2 linked regions of the Homo sapiens genome follow. The protein of the gene in region 2 interacts with the protein of the main gene of each other region in a biochemical or structural test. Each region holds a gene or a part of one and is shown on either strand. Other genes may lie near its edges.

Evidence for each region. Proteins that work in one complex are often made in the same cells at the same time.
Region 1: the proteins of ALPI (region 2) and IRF5 form a complex in vitro, tested with the Homo sapiens proteins (one study listed by BioGRID).

The regions. Positions count from the first base shown.
Region 1 is NC_000007.14:128,940,165-128,948,203, forward strand, and holds part of IRF5 (interferon regulatory factor 5), read left to right. Parts: exon of another isoform or gene 1-1,260; intron 1,261-1,906; 5' UTR 1,907-1,917; coding exon 1,918-2,112; intron 2,113-5,680; coding exon 5,681-5,870; intron 5,871-6,336; coding exon 6,337-6,398; intron 6,399-6,858; coding exon 6,859-6,892; intron 6,893-7,065; coding exon 7,066-7,371; intron 7,372-7,564; coding exon 7,565-7,957; intron 7,958-8,039. UniProt on the Homo sapiens protein: Transcription factor that plays a critical role in innate immunity by activating expression of type I interferon (IFN) IFNA and INFB and inflammatory cytokines downstream of endolysosomal toll-like receptors TLR7, TLR8 and TLR9.
Region 2 is NC_000002.12:232,450,862-232,459,393, reverse strand, and holds the start of ALPI (intestinal-type alkaline phosphatase precursor), read right to left. Parts: upstream 3,242-8,532; 5' UTR 3,195-3,241; coding exon 3,128-3,194; intron 3,046-3,127; coding exon 2,929-3,045; intron 2,815-2,928; coding exon 2,699-2,814; intron 2,496-2,698; coding exon 2,321-2,495; intron 2,245-2,320; coding exon 2,072-2,244; intron 1,830-2,071; coding exon 1,695-1,829; intron 1,600-1,694; coding exon 1,527-1,599; intron 1,397-1,526; coding exon 1,262-1,396; intron 1,178-1,261; coding exon 986-1,177; intron 763-985; coding exon 646-762; intron 535-645; coding exon 248-534; 3' UTR 1-247. UniProt on the Homo sapiens protein: Alkaline phosphatase that can hydrolyze various phosphate compounds.

The DNA of each region.
Region 1 (8,039 bases), on a different chromosome or scaffold from region 2:
GACACTGAGGTCGGAGTTATCATTTCAAAACCTTGCTCTGTATTAAACAGCCGTGTTGGGCAGGGCCAGACTGCTGGACTGACAGTAGGGGGCAGGCAGCCGGACCCTCTGAGCTCCCCAACGGCACCAGCGCCTGCACGGCCTCAGCCCAGGGGGTCATTAGGGAAGCTCTCCCCGATTCTGTGCAGACAGAGCTTCCTCTGTCCACCCTTGCTCGGCCAGAATTGTGTGCCGCTGGTGACTGGCACCCCTCTATTCTAGGGCCAAGGCCTCTCAGGGGTCTACAGATACAACTATGGGTGGGTGCACACCCATGTTATAAACCACACTAAATGCACAAAAACTGTCTGCAAGTTTGGGGTGCGGGGAACAGCTCTGGGTGGGAGGTTGGAAATTTGGTCTGGGGGACCCACTCGGCTCCCTCCCTCAGCCCACAGTGAGTCTGGTTTCTGAGTTGTCCCGGTCTAGCCACTTTCGTTTCCCCTGGGGCCGGGTGGAGGCTGGGGCAGAAAGCGGAACTGAGCCCGCGTGTTCTGAGGCCAGGGCAGGGCTGGAGCGTTCTGAACACCTCCCCGTCCCAGCCCCTGGGCCAGGCAAGGGCCGGCCTTACCTCTCCTGGGTTGGTGGCAGCAGAGCTGGGCTCTGAGGGAGGCCTGCAATGTGAGACAGTAGCAGCTCAGAGGCGGCACTAGGCAGGTGCAACCCCAAAAGGTACTGGGCAGGGAATTTCAGGGGAAACTGAGGCTCCATGCTGCAAGGCCAAAGCAGGCCCAGACACAGGGAGTTCAGCTCGAACGTTTGCTCCTTACTTGCTGACCGACACATTCACTTCTGATGGGCTGTGCTGTGTAATGACCCAGTCCTTTCTGTCTTCCACCCAGGGGTCTCAAGTGAAGGGCCAAGGGCATGGGTAAGGGGAGGAGAGGGACAGAAGGGGACTCAGGACTGTGGAGAGTTTCCGGTTCTGGGCTGGAGAGGGAGTTGGGCAGGTGAAGGGGAGGAGGCAGGGTCCCTCTGGCCTGACTCCAGGGAGGCAGTGAAGCTGTGGCCTGGGAGGCGGGGCTCGTGCCCCTGGGTAGGTAGCAGTTAGAGCTGTGGCTTCTGTTTCCTGTAGCCTTCCTAACAGGCTCCGGCAGGCGTTAGGGCCTTCCTAAGTGCTACCCGAATGCGTGTCCAGTGGGAGGAGAAGGGGGAGGACCAAGAACCTAGATGAATGGCCCTAGAGAGGTAACATCTGTTTGGTGCCTGCTGTCATTGGAGGTGGGTTGAGTTGGTTGATGGGATTTCTCTAAAGATATTGAGAAACTGCTTTCCTCTGAGGGCAGGTGTCCTTGGGAGCTCCAGATGAGATTCTTGTTGAGGGCATCTCCGGAGGGAACTCTCAGGGGATGGAGGGTGAGAAAACTTGGGCAGGGAAGAATCGAACTAGGGGTGTAGACTGAGCAGGAGGCTGTCTTCGGGCTGATCCCACAGAGCGCTCGCTGTCCCAGGTAGCCAGCTTGAGACAAGACAGCCGGGCTTTTGGTGTCAGGCAGTCACTGGCTGTGGGCTGCCCCCCAAGAGCAAGGGGTGGGCCTAACCTGTGGTGTGAGTAGTGGAAGGCGGTTCTCTGGCCAACGGGCTGCTTGCTGCTGTTAGCAGTTGGAGAATGGATGCCTCTGCCCGGTAAAGGGCACCTGGGGCCGCGCCCGCAGCATTCACTAACTCGTAACTCTCCTTCCCTTCCTCCAAACACAAAATTCCATGACACTAGACAAGAAAGCTGATGCTTGGAAAAGAGAATTGGCCTTAAATACCTAGATGGACTGGAGAGACCATCCTTTGTGGTCCATAGCTTGACCTCTGAGTACCCTGTCCCCATCCACCTGCAGACCTGCTGAGGCTCCCCTCTGGCTTTCTCCTGCAGACCCCTCTGCCATGAACCAGTCCATCCCAGTGGCTCCCACCCCACCCCGCCGCGTGCGGCTGAAGCCCTGGCTGGTGGCCCAGGTGAACAGCTGCCAGTACCCAGGGCTTCAATGGGTCAACGGGGAAAAGAAATTATTCTGCATCCCCTGGAGGCATGCCACAAGGCATGGTCCCAGCCAGGACGGAGATAACACCATCTTCAAGGTAAGCCCCGGGGAGGAGGTTGGCTGGACCTCCAGGGCACCCTGTCCCCAGAAGAGGAGCGCACATAACGCACACAGGCAGCTCCTCGAGGCTGGCCACCCGCCCAGCTACCATGCTGCTGCTGATGCCGGGCCCGGACTAAGGGGATGCAGACGTAGACACAGGGTACACCTTTTTCCTTTTTTTTTTTTTTTAAGACAGAGTCTCGCTCTGTAGCCCAGGCTGGAGTGCAGTGGCACGATCTCAGCTCACTGCAACCTCTGCCTCCTGGGTTCAAGCAATTCTCCTGCCTCAGCCTCCTGAGTAGCTGGGATTACAGGCATGAGCCACCACGCCTGGCCTAGGGCACATCTTTTCTAACCTGCACCCTAGAGCATCGTGGGGACTGAGGGTCCCCAGAAGGCCTTCCCATAACTCGTCCTACTCACCCTTTGCTCGTCTCACTCCTATTACTCATGAGGACTTGTTCAGTGCACGCATATGCTAAAGGAAGCCAACGATCATCATCTTTCTAAAAATTTTATTTTTAAATTAGTATATATTTATGGGGTACACAGTGGTGATTTGATAAGCACAGTGATCAGATCAGGTACTTAGCATATCCATAATCTCAAACATTTGTCATTTCTTTGTGTTGGGAACAAACTATTTTTAATATAAGATTCAGATACATCATCAATCTTTCAATTGTTTAAATTTTCTAATTTTTTTTAGAGACAGGGCCTCACACTGTTGACCAGATTCCAATTTTTTTTTTTTTTTTTTTTTTTTTTTTGAGACAGGGTCTCACTCTGTCACCCAGGCTGGAGTGCAGTGGCTTGATCTCAGCTCACTGCAGCCTCGACCTCCCAGGCTCAGGTGAGTCTCCCATCTCAACCTCCTTGAGTAGCTGGGATTACAGGTGCCTGCCACCACAACTGGCTAATTTTTTGTACTTTTAGTAGAGACTTTGCCATGTTGCCCAGGCTGGTCTTGAACTCCTGGACTCAAGCAATCCACCCACCTCAGCCTCCCAGAGTGCTGGGATTACAGGTGTGAGCCACCATGCCCGGCCCAATCTTTTTTTTTAATTGATGTACTACAACTGTACATATATACTCTTTTTTTTTTTTTTTGAGATGAGTTGTTGCTCTGTTGCCTAGTGTTGCACCATTGGTGAGCAGTGGTGCAGTCATAGCACAACCTCCAACTCAGCTCAAGTGATCCTCCAGTCTCAGCTTCCTGAGTAGCCGTGACTACAGGTGCATGCCACCATGCCCAGCTAATTTTTTTTTTTTTTTTTGAGATGGAGTCTTGCTTTTTCACCCTAGCTGGAGTGCAATGGCACAATCTCAGCTCACTGCAACCTCTGCCACCTGGGTTCAAGCAATTCTCCTGCCTCAGCCTCCCGAGTAGCTAGGATTACAGGCACCTGCCACCATGCCCGGCTAATTTTTTTTTTTTTTTTTTTTTTTTTTTTTTTTTTTGTATTTTTGGTAAAGACAGGGTTTCACCCTGTTGGCCAGGCTGGTCTTGAACTCCTGACCTCATGATCCACCTGCCTTGGCCTCCCAAAGTGCTGGGATTACAGGCGTGAGCCACCGTGCCCAGCCTAATTTTTTGATTTTGATATTTGTAAAGATGAGGTCTCACTTTGTTGCCCAGGCTGGTCTCAAGCTCATGGGCTCAAGTGATCCTCCCACCTCAGCCTCCTGAGTAGCTGGTATCACAGGCGCAAGCCACTGTGCTCTCTCCAATAATCTTAATGCTAGGATGTACCTCGCATAATAGTTTTTGCTTACATTTTAGTTTTTTTGCACATGTGTGTATATGGAATGCAAAATTGGAATCAAGTGAATATCTTGATTTATAGCCTGGATTTTTTTCACCCAATATCAGGATCAGCTTTCCTTTCCAACATACGTCCACATCACTTTTCGTGACTGTAGAATTTCCACTGGAATGGTTTAGCACAATTTGGTCACTGAGTCTTGGTTTTTAGATACTTGAGATTGCTTTTAAAACCTGAACTTAAAAACCACATTGTCATGTAGGCTGTCTTAATGCTTCCCTTTTTTTCATCCTCAATTATTTTGGGGGTTGATTTCCTAGAGTTGAAAATTGCTGGGTCAAAGGCAATGCTTATTTTTTAAAACTTTGGGTACATATTTTCTTAGTTTTTGGGCTTGATCCTTACCTTTCCAAAATTCTTTTGCTAATCCATTTATTTTGTATAGGTAATACAGTCACAAAATTCAACATTAAAAGGCATAGAATGGTTTAGAGCAAAAAGTCTCCCTCCTTCCCTGGTTCATCACCACCCACTCCCCTCCCTAGCCTTTCCCTAGAGGCAGCCGTGTTGTCATTTTCTTGTTTAGCCTTCCTGAGAGATTTTTATGCACATGTAAGCAAATATGGAACTATCCTTTCCTCTACTTTTCATAAGAAATGCTAGATATCTGCATATTTGTCTAGACTTAATACTTCTTGACGATTGCTACATGTCAGCTTATAAACAGTTTCCTGCTTTTTCTTTTTTTGTGCTGCCCAGTATTTTTCATTCAATGGGTTGGCCGTAATTTCACCAGCCCCTCATTGATGGATGTTGCATTGGGTATTTTGGGTCATCTTTTACACACAGCACTGCTGCGAATAACTTTGTGTGTGCAATATTTTGTGTGAATGCTTCTATGATATTTAGGATGAATTCCTAGAAATCAAATAGCTGGGTTAAAAGGTAGAAAGAAATGTTGGTAACCCTCACCTCACCTAATTGCCATTCAAAATAATACCAACAGCTCCAGTGTCTCGAGCCTGTCCTATGTGCAGGTTTAGCTCTGAGTGCTTTACGGACATCAACTCCCCTCATCTTTTTTGAGATAGGGTATCACTCTGTCGTCCAGGCTGGAGTGCAGAGCATAATCATGGCTCACTGCAGCCTTGAACTCCCCAGCTCAAGCAATCCTCTCACCTCAGCCTCCTGAGTAGCTGGGACCACAGGCACCCACCACTATGCCCAGCTAATTTTTTGTAAAGACAGGAGTCTCGTTATGTTGCCTAGGCTGGACTCCAACTCCTGGGCTCAAGCAGTCCTCCCACCTTGGCCTCCCAAAATGTTGGGATTACAGGTGCGAGCCACTGTGCCCAGCCAACATCAACCCCTTGAGTCTTCGCTGCCACTCCATGAGGTGGGCAACTGTGAGGAGATCAAGACAAAGGGAGGCAGTGACATGGCCTGGCACACAGCTGGCGGGGGGCACTTCCAGATTCAAACCCAGCCTGGCTCCAGGGTGCTCACCCTTATCCCGCACGCTGTCCTCCTTAGAGATCACACTGTTTCACCCTCCCAGGAGCAGGGACTATGGATGCATCTCATAGCCCCTAGATTTCATGTAGCTTGCTGGCAGCCTGAGGGCTGGGGCAGGACTGTGGCAGACTCCCACGCTGCAAACCAGGTCTGGGGCTCAGCGAGGCTCAGCCTGTAGCCGAAGTTCTCCCCACACAGTAGAGTCTCCTATGGGACAGGAGGCAGACTGGGGCTGTGGCAGGGATGAGGTTCTCTGTGGTCGGCTATTTCTTCCTGCCCCAGGCCTGGGCCAAGGAGACAGGGAAATACACCGAAGGCGTGGATGAAGCCGATCCGGCCAAGTGGAAGGCCAACCTGCGCTGTGCCCTTAACAAGAGCCGGGACTTCCGCCTCATCTACGACGGGCCCCGGGACATGCCACCTCAGCCCTACAAGATCTACGAGGTCTGCTCCAATGGCCCTGCTCCCACAGGTATCAGGCCTAGCCCTCTGTGGGCCACCTGGGAGGCTGTGCAATGTCCTGGCCCCCAGCCATGAGCTCTTGGGTGCAGGCAGGCCAAGGGCCCCTCTAGCAGGCAGTGGTCCAGGAAACGATGCGGGGGCTCCCGCTAGGTCATGACACCCAGGGCTTCCAGGAGTGGCTGGGATGGGTCACTGGCATATCAGGAATGGCTTGGCGTGCAGTCAGGGACCTGGGTGCTTCTTCCTTACCATTGCCCTCGTTTTGGCTTCTGGCTCCAGCCTAGGTCTCATGGCCCATGGAGTCGGGGAGGTCTTTCCCAATCCTGGTGGCTGTGCCCTCCACCTCGCCCTGTGTTGGGGGCAGCTTTGGGGAAGGCAGAAGCTGCATAGGAGCTACAGGCAGCCTCTCAGGGGATCTTGCTTCTCCTCCGACATTGACTCCTTTACTGCCCTGCTTTTCTCTCCCTGCTGTGCAGACTCCCAGCCCCCTGAGGATTACTCTTTTGGTGCAGGAGAGGAGGAGGAAGAAGAGGAAGAGGTGAGTGTGGGTTGAGGAGGCAGGTGGAGCCCTGGACGAGCTCTCTGCTGTCCCCATCGGCCTTAGGTTTCCGCAGCCCCACTCCCATGGAGCCCCGTGGCCCTCTCAATAGTTCTCCTTGTTTCTTCTCCTGGGATTCTGAACGATAGGAGCACAGTCCCCACCTGCTCCTTCCCAGGGCATTGTCATTACCCTGTGTGTGTGACCCACGCAGCAGTTGGGGCTTGGTAGGTCTGACTCCCTGCAGAAGGCAAATGAGGAAAGTGAGGCAAAGGGCTTTTCTGACCTGCCTGGGATGGACGAGCTGGGACCGGAGGCAGGGTCTTGCCTGAGCTAAACTGAGGCTAGGGGAGTTGCCTCATAGTTCTCGCCTGTTATTTCCCCAGCCCCAGGTCAGTGGAATAACCTGTCCTCCTTTCTCTCCCATCTCTTCCCTCCCTTGCTGGTGGTGTCCCTTCAGCTGCAGAGGATGTTGCCAAGCCTGAGCCTCACAGGTGGGGCCGGGAGGTGGTGGTTGGGGGTCTAGTATACAGAGAAGCTATAGGTACCATAGGTACCTGGAAGGGGGCTGATGGGAGGCTAGGGTGGCCCAGGGCTGGGAGGAGGTGTGCCTGGGAGGCAGTTCGTGGAGGTGGCACTGACAGCCGTCCACACGCACTCTCTGTAGATGCAGTGCAGTCTGGCCCCCACATGACACCCTATTCTTTACTCAAAGAGGATGTCAAGTGGCCGCCCACTCTGCAGCCGCCCACTCTGCGGCCGCCTACTCTGCAGCCGCCCACTCTGCAGCCGCCCGTGGTGCTGGGTCCCCCTGCTCCAGACCCCAGCCCCCTGGCTCCTCCCCCTGGCAACCCTGCTGGCTTCAGGGAGCTTCTCTCTGAGGTCCTGGAGCCTGGGCCCCTGCCTGCCAGCCTGCCCCCTGCAGGCGAACAGCTCCTGCCAGACCTGCTGATCAGCCCCCACATGCTGCCTCGTAAGGACCCATGGCTGGGCACGGGGAAGCAGTGCTGGGGGATTGGGGTAGGATTGGCAAGGAGGGTGGAGGGTGCTGGACTCCCTTGGGTGGGAAAAGTGGGAGGGCGGATGGGGCTGGGCCTGGCCACTGGGCTGCAGAATGGGGAGGCGTGGGGCTCAAGGACGGGATGGGCCTGCCTTCTGCCCCACAGTGACCGACCTGGAGATCAAGTTTCAGTACCGGGGGCGGCCACCCCGGGCCCTCACCATCAGCAACCCCCATGGCTGCCGGCTCTTCTACAGCCAGCTGGAGGCCACCCAGGAGCAGGTGGAACTCTTCGGCCCCATAAGCCTGGAGCAAGTGCGCTTCCCCAGCCCTGAGGACATCCCCAGTGACAAGCAGCGCTTCTACACGAACCAGCTGCTGGATGTCCTGGACCGCGGGCTCATCCTCCAGCTACAGGGCCAGGACCTTTATGCCATCCGCCTGTGTCAGTGCAAGGTGTTCTGGAGCGGGCCTTGTGCCTCAGCCCATGACTCATGCCCCAACCCCATCCAGCGGGAGGTCAAGACCAAGCTTTTCAGCCTGGAGCATTTTCTCAATGGTGAGGGCCCAAAGCTGTGATCCTCCTGGCTGCCTCTTGCCCAGGGCATGGTTCCAGCCTCTGACTAGGGACCTTGATTTTG
Region 2 (8,532 bases):
AGAACAACCTGAGGGGAGGTCCTGGAAGTCCCAGGCTCAGCTCCCAGGGCGCCCTGGGCTCCTGCTCCCTGAAGGGGATGCGGAGGGAAGAAGGGCCCCGCTGCGCCAGCTGAGGCTGGTTTATCTCTAGGAGGTGAAGGTCCAACGGCAGGACACCTGTGTGTGTTCGCTGGAAGTGGCGGCTCAGGACGGGGAACAGGGCAGGACGCCCGGAGGTGGGGAGCAGGATAACTCCGGAGTGGGGCACTCAGGGAGCAGCGGACGCCCCCAGCAGCAGCAGGGTCCCGGCCAGCAGTGGCAGCGACGCGGCAACTGGGTGCGCGGCGTCGGTGGTGCAGGCGGGAGGCGCCAGGTCGCAGGCCGTGTAGGGCTCCAGACAGGCAGCGAAGGCCATGACATGCGCTACGAAGCTCTGCTCCTGCACACCATGCACCAGGTGCGCCTGCGGGCCGCGCGCAAACACCGCCACGTCTTCGCCTCCGTGGGTCTCGGACGACAGGGGCACCGCCGCCTGCTGCTGGTAATCGGGGCTCCCTGGTAGGAGGGTGAGTGCACTTCAGGGCAGGCAGGCGGCGTCCCCCTCCCGCGAATGCCCCCATCCCTGGCACCCTGGTCCCCCTGCACGGGCCATTCAGCCTCACTCACCGCTCTCGCTCTCATTCACGTCTGGTCGCACGCCTGAGTTGAACACGTAGCCCGGGCCATTGCCGTACAGGATGGACGTGTAGGCTTTGCTGTCCTGAGCCTTGCTGGGGGCCAACCCTGTAGGGAGATGCGGGTCCCTGTAGTTGAGCTGACCACAGCTGTGGGAGTGCCTCCTATGTGCCAGGCACCGCCACTTTTTGCCTGTTCGGGGGCTCGGTCCTCACAAGATCCCTATAGGGCTGGTGCCAGCATTGCACACTTTTGACAGAGGAGGAAACTGAAGCTCAAACTTCACCCTCATAATTGATGCAGCAGCACCTGCCACTCTCCCCAGGCCTACCGAAGATGGAGCTCCCTCGCAAGGTGTAGCCACCAAAGGAGAAGACATGGGAGTGGTCAGCGGTGACGAGGGTCAGCGTGTCCTCCTCGCTGGTGAGCTGGCCCGCCCTCTCAATGGCGTCGTCGAACATGACCGCCTCAGTGAGTGCCTGGTAAGCCACACCCTCATGATGACCATGGTCGATGCGGCCGCCTGCAGGAAGGCCAGAGGGGGGTGATGCTTGAACCTGCCCTGCCGCGCCCCGCCTTCCTCCACTCCCCAGGGGCCACCACGCACCCTCCACAAAGAGGTAGAAGCCGCGGGGGTTCCTGCTCAGCAGGCGCAGGGCAGCCTCTGTCATCTCCATCAGGGAGGGGTCCAGTGTGGGGTCTCGGTGGATCTCATATTTCGTGTCTCCGGGCTCAAAGAGGCCTGTGGGACAAGGAGCTTGGTGGTGATTGGCAGGCTGTGAGCGGGAGGGTGCTGGCAAATGGGCACACAGGCTCGGATGGCACCCTCTGAGGTTGTCTGAGGAATGCCAGGGCAGGAAGGGGGTCATTACCCATGAGATGGGTCACAGACTGGTCCAGGGACGCCTGCATGAGCTCAGTGCGGTTCCACACATACCAGGCACCCTGCAGGGACAGAGCCAGGCTTCAGCCCACAGCCCTGAGACCCACACACTTGGCCTCCCCCTGCCGTGCCTCCCACACCCACCAGCCCCCATCACCTGGTGCTTTGCCAGCCATTCCTGCACCAGGTTCTTCCCGTCCAGCCTGATTCCATTCTGGCTGGCATCAGCTGGGTACTCAGGGTCTGGGGTCCCCATGGGAAACATGTACTTGCGGCCTCCGCCAAGGATCACCTGAGGACAATGGATGGGGCAGGTGGTTTGGGGGCCTGGCTGGCCCCGTGCCCCCTCCTCATGCATAGCCCCTGGCTCCCCTCCCCAGGGCTGTGGGAATGGCCCAGCCTGTATTGCACATTCTACATCCCCAACTCCACCTCCAGAACCTGCTGACCCAGATCAGGCTTTTGGTTGCCTGGATCTGAGCCTGTGCCACCTTCCCCTCTGCCCAGCCCCAGCCCTTGGCCCGGGGGTCGCACGTCAATGTCCATGTTGGAGATGAGCTGAGTGGCGATGTCCTGGCACCCCTCCTGGCGGGCTGAGGCAGGCATGTCAGCATCTGAGTACCAGTTGCGGTTCACTGTGTGTGCGTAGGTGCCGGCTGGCGAGGCGTGCTGCACCCGTGTGGTGGTCACCACTCCTACTGACTTTCCTGAGGGTGACAGAGGTCAGGATCGGTGACCGAGATCTTGGGCCTGGTCCTGACCCCACAGCGGGCCCCAGCTCACCTGCTTGCTTGGCCCGGTTCATCACGGAGATGACCTCATTGCCGCGTGTCGTGTTGCACTGGTTAAAGCGGGCGGCTGCACTCAAGCCGATGGTCTGGAAGTTGGCCTTGACCCCGCACAGGTAGGCCGTGGCTGTGGCTGCGCTGTCTGGCACCTGTCTGTCCACATTGTATGTCTGCGAACGGAGACACCCTGAGCTCTACTTCGGGGCGGACACCCAGACCCCAACCAAGGACCTGGTTCTGGTCCTCTGGGATCCTAACTGCTCCCAGCTCCTAACTTAGGCCCCAGCTGTCCTGGCTCCCTCCCTCCTGCCACACTCCATATCCTTGATCCCTCTCCTCTGCTTGGAGGACTCTGAGGTGGCCCAGCCCTTACCTTGGACAGAGCCAGGTATGGGAAGCGGTCCATGGCCAGGGGCGTCTCAGGCCCCAGTTTGCCATTCTTCTGCCCCTTTAGGATCCTGGTGGCTGTCACCGTGGGCACCCCCAACCCTGAAGGAGCAGAAATGTGTGAGTCCTGGGCCCCAGGGTTGTCCTGGAACCACTGAAGGTCCCGGGTGCCGGGGCTGTGAGGACTACGGGGCTGGACAGGCCTTGCTCACTCACCATCGCCCAGGAAGAGGATGAGGTTCTTGGCGACCTTCTGGATGGGCTGCAGCTTCTTGGCAGCATCCAGGGCCTCAGCTGCCTGGCGGTTCCAGAAGGCCGGGTTCTCCTCCTCAGCTGGCCAGGGGGAGAGTAGAGATCAGGTCAGCCTGGCTGAGGGGGTGCCCTGTGTGTGGAACAGCTTGGGGAGCCTCATTACCTGGGATGACGCCCAGGGAGAGCTGTAGCCTCAGGCCCAGCAGCAGCAGCACCCAGGGCCCCTGCATGTCTTGGGGGCAGCAGGAGGGAGGCGAAGTGGGGACACCAGGAACCGGCTGCAGCGCAGGCTGCCTGGGTTTAAATCAGGGGAGGACTTTGCCCCTGGCTGTAAATGCTCCACGTCCCTCCCCACACCCCTGGTGTCCATCTTGACCCCGCCCAGTCCTGTGACCTGAAGCCAAGCTTGCTGAAGGGAAGGGACTGGGTGTGGCTCACAGTGTCTTGTGGGAGACGCGTTGCCACTCCTTCATTCACCTCATTCAAGGTGTGAAGAGAGGTGAGACTGGAAACACACAGCCTAGGCCAGGGCCCGGGTTAGGGCTCGTAATGTCACGAGCCCCAGAGGAGTGTGAAAGGAGGCACACTGGGTGGCCTGGCTGCCCTAGAACCCACTTGGTGTATATGGGTGCCCACACCTATGTCCTGAGGACGCAGGCTGGGAAGGGGCCAGTGCTCTGGGTCAGCCAGACCTGGGCTGGGTCTTCCAGAGCAGCCTGTGCACTTGAGGTTGACCCCTGTTCCCTTGCACAGGTAGATGGAGCCTGGGGTGAGTCTGTTTTCCATGGGCCCCGGGGAACACCCAGAAGTGTAGCCTCTGATAAGGAGTTCAGAGAGTTTGGTAACCTCAGGCTGAGTTCAAAAGTATTGCTTCAGTCCAGACATCCCACTCTGAGTGTGTAGCCAAAGGAATGCGAACTAGGGACTCGAACAGATAACTGCACACCCATGTTCCCAGCAGCATTATCCACAGCAGCCAAGAGCTGGAAGCTACCCAAGTGTCCAGCAAAAGAGAAATGGAGAAACCAAACAGGGTGCACACATACAATGGAGTATCACGCAGCCTTGAAAACAAAGGCGACCCTGACACCTGCTACAACATGGATGAACCTTAGGACATTATGCTCAGTGAAATATACCAGTGCAAAAGAACAAATACGCACGAACACACTTCTCTGAGGTCCCGAGGGGAGTCAAATACATAGAGACAGAAGTGGAATGGAGGTTGCCTGAGGCTGAGGGAGGAGGCAATGGGTTAGGGTTGGGGTTAGGGTTAGAGTTGGAGTTTAATAGGGACAGAGCTTCAAGGTTGCAGGATGAGAATGTTCTGGAGATCAGCTGCACAACACTGTGCGTGTACTCAACACTGCCGCCCTGTACACTTGAAAATGGTGAAGGAGGTAAACTTGATGTACCGTGTTTTGTAGCACAATTCAAAAACTGGTTCAAGAAGAAAAGGCTCCTCCAGCTCCACCCACCCCAGCCCAACCACAGCAGCCCCTTCTCCACTCGAGCCTGTTTACCTCAAACCCCAGGCTTGGCCCTCAGAACCCAGGGGACCTCACCTGCTGCCCAGCCTCTGCCTGCCCTGCCCCACTCCCCACCACGCCTAGGGCCTCCCTCAGGCCGAGCTTTCCCGGGTCCTCCTGCCTGCGCCCTCCTGGCTTCCCGGTGGTCGTCCTGGGGCTCTCAGGGAAGATGTCGCTCTCATAGGTCCTTCTTGCCCCCTGCTTGTTGCCCCCTTAGTTTCCTCTACCTCCTGCTTCATCTTGCTGAGTTAGGAACATTCTTGGCTGAAAGTCAGAGGAGACTCACTAATGGGTCTCCTCAATTAATTGATTGATTGATTCCAAAGTCAAGGTGAGTCAGGAGGCTTTATAGCCACCCTGAGTTTCATGTTTAAGTTGGAATTTTTGACAGAACTATAGATTCACAAGTAGTTGTAAGAAATAATACAAGCTGGGTGCGGTGGCTCATGCCTGTAATCCCAGCACTTTGGGAGGCCGAGGTGGGTGGATCATGAGGTCAGGAGATCAAGGCCATCCTGGCTAACACAGTGAAACCCCATCTCTACTAAAAATACAAAAAATTAGCTGGGTGTGGTGGCATGCACCTGTAGTCCCAGCTACTTGGGAGGCTGAGGCAGAAGAATCACTTGAACCTGGGAGGTGGAGGTTGCAGTGAGCTGAGATCATGCCACTGCACTCCAGCCTGGGTGGCAGAGTGAGACTCTGTCTCAAAAAAAAAAAAAAGGGAAATAATACAAGAGGCCCTACGTAGTGGCTCACCCCTGCAATCCTAGCACTTTAGGAGGCTGAGGCGGGAGATTCACTTGAGCGCAGGAGTTTGAGACCAGCCTGGGCAACATGGAAAAACCTCATCTCTACAAAAAATACAAAAATTAGCGGAGCGAAATGGCCTGCTCCTGTGGTCCCTCCACAGGAAATAAATTAAATAGCCTTTGGGTGTGAGCTGAAATTATCTCTCCACCTACTTGGGAAGCTGAGGTGGGAGTATCACTTGAGCCCGGGAGGTGGAGGTTGCAGTGAGTCAAGACCATATCATTGCACTCTAGCCTGGGTGACAGAACAAGACCCTGTCTAAACAAAAAAAAAAAAAGAAGAAAGTACAAGAGATGTCTGTGCACTTTGCTTAGTCTCCCCCAGTGGCATAATCCACAGTTATTATTCAGATTTCCCCAGTGTTACCTGTATTCGTGTGCATGTGTGTGGGAGTGTGTATACAATTTATCACCTAAGTAGGTTTGTGTAACAGCACCATAGTTGAGATGCTGAAGAGCTCCAACCCCACAGGGTACTTTTATAACCAGGCCACCTCTTTCCTCTACCTCTTCCCCTGTCCCTAATCCTTGACAACCAGATATGTGTCCAACCTGGGTGACAGAGTGAGACAACATCTCAGAAAAAGAAAAAAATAAGAAATGCCTTGTGGACTTTGCATAGTTTCCCCACCTTTGGTTAGTTTCACTGCCACCCTAACTTTGCCATCTCCCCTTTAACAAGATAAAGCATGCTTTAGACTCAAAACATCTAAGGAGGCTGTAAGAACACTGCTTTTGGTGTGTGTGGAATACACAGTTGCTTCTGTTTATGGCAAGAGATGGTGGTCTTCCATTTTTCAGTTACAAGTTTCCTTTTCTAATAGACTTAAGGCAAATCTGAGCTTATGTAGAGAAAAATATTCAGTAAATCATACCACAGGCAGTAATGTGGCTACGGCAAAAAGTTGTCAAGGTGATACGTGACTAGCTGAGTGCTAAGAAGCATGGATTTAAAAGAAGTAAATTAAATAGCCTTTGAGTCTGAGCTGAAATTCTCTGTCCACCACTTACTGAGTGTCCTTCAGAACGGAACCTCTCCAAGCCTTAATTCCCTCATCTATGAACGAAAAGAATGATAGTCCTGTCAACCTTAAGAAACAGAGGGAGGCTCTCCAAAACTATGGAGTTTAACTGGGAATAAGCAGCAGCATTGCATGCAGAGCCCCGGCCTTAGTAAACTAGGGGCGCATCGGAGGAGGGGAGGCAAGGGGTGCTTTGAAAGGCGAAAGGAGCAGTGCATGGTCGGTTTTTGGTTTTTGTCTTTTTTTTTTTTTTTTTCTTGAGTTGCTCTGTTGCCCAGGCTGGAGTGCAGTGGCACAGTCTCAGCTCACTGCAACCTCTGCCTCCCGGGTTCTCCTGCCTCAGCCTCCTGAGTAGCTGGGACTACAGGCACTCACCACCACATCCACCTACACAGCTGTTTTGAAAGGAAGAGAACACTGATTCCAGGGGCTTATCCCAGGAACCGGCATAAGTTTATGAGTGGACACAGCGTTATTAGGCAAGTGTTCTTGTGCAGCCGGCTAGCCGTCCTTGTGACTCACATAGTGAGCTGCAAAGTCCCGGCAAAAAATAAAAAATAAAAAAAGGTCTTGTTGCAGGCATCTGTGCCCTTCCCAGAGGCTTCGGAAGGGCTCTGATCATAGGCAGGTGTGCGGGAGGGCCCTCCTTCAGAACCTCCCGGCCGCATGATTTTGTTGTTGCTCTTAGGGTTGGACAGAAGTGGCTCCATTTTGATTCTGACAACTTTCACAGAGCCTGGGTCTCGGGGCTGTTGCGGGGACTTAATTAGTCCAGGGCCTGCTGCAGAGTTAGCAGGGGAGCAGGGGGCAAGAGGCGACCCCTGACCTTTATGAACACGAGGCAAGTCCTGAACATCCTTGAAACCTGTTTCCAAGCTGCGGGTCTGCACAGCACACAGTTGGCCAAATGGTAGCGGAAGCAGCTCCTTCCTAGAGCACAAATCTCTAAATTCCTAATTAAGGGCTGTGTAGGCAGGACCTCCCTCTGGCCCATCCCACCTACCAAGGAGGGACATCCAGGCATTCCTCATGCACAGGAGAACTTGGGTCAGGTACCTGGGGTGGGAACAAGAAGGGACTGTCCCACCCCCAAGGCAGGAGACACCCCAACCTCCTCCCTATGGGCTTCCTGGGGAGGCCTCTCAACAGGCCATGGAGCCCCCTCAGCAGCACAAGCAGGACACTGGGGCCTCAGCCTGTGGGAAGCTGCAGGCACAGGAATGGGCTCAGTGGAGGGGGCACTCAGCCAGGCACCCCGAGCCCTGATCTGGCCACCTCCTTCACCCCTGCCCCCTAATACCAGCAGTAGTGACAGTGGCAGGGGTGGCTGGCAGGTGGGCCCTAGTGAATGGTTGTCCCCTGAGAGTGAGGGACAAAAGACAATTCTGCCCTGAAGGGTGCTTCGGGCGTCTATATGGATGTGTGGAAAGGAAAGTGTATGAAGTCAAGGATGCTGCAATTGTGTTTAGTGGTTTAACTTTGATCTTGTATGACAGGAACCAGGGGGACAATTGTATTCCAATAGCACCCTGGTGAGTTGAAAACCTGTTAAGTTGAATACACTATTGGAGAGTTTTTGTTCCATCTTCTATTTTGCCCTTCAATTTCTGTTGCTTTTTAAATATCTGGCTAAGTGCTTTCCAGAACTGAGCAATGTACTATTGATAAACATTAAGAACACAACACAGCTCATGAACGAGGTTGAGCAAAACTGTTTTTTAAGTAAAATAAATTATTTAGGCCGGGTGCGGTGGCTCACGCCTGTAATCTCAGCACTTTGGGAGGCTGAGGCAGGCGGATCACAAGGTCAGGAGATCGAGACCATCCTGGCTAACACAGTGAAACCCTGTGTTTACTAAAACTACAAAAAAAATTAGCCGGGCATGGTGGCAGGCACCTGTGGTCCCAGCTACTTGGGAGGCTGAGGCAGGAGAATGGCGTGAACCTGGGAGGCAGAGCTTGCAGTGAGCCAAGATCATGCCACTGCACTCCAGCCTGGGCAACAGAGCAAGACTCCGTCTCAAAAAATAATAATAAAATAAAATAAAATAAATTATTTAAATGGATCAGTTTCCCCCTCAAATGATTTTCTATCTGTTAAAAAAACAAATCGGCCGGGCATGGTGGCTCATACCTATAATCCTAACACTTTGGGAGGCTGAGACGGGAGGATCACTTGAGCCCAGGAGCTTGAGACAAGCCTGG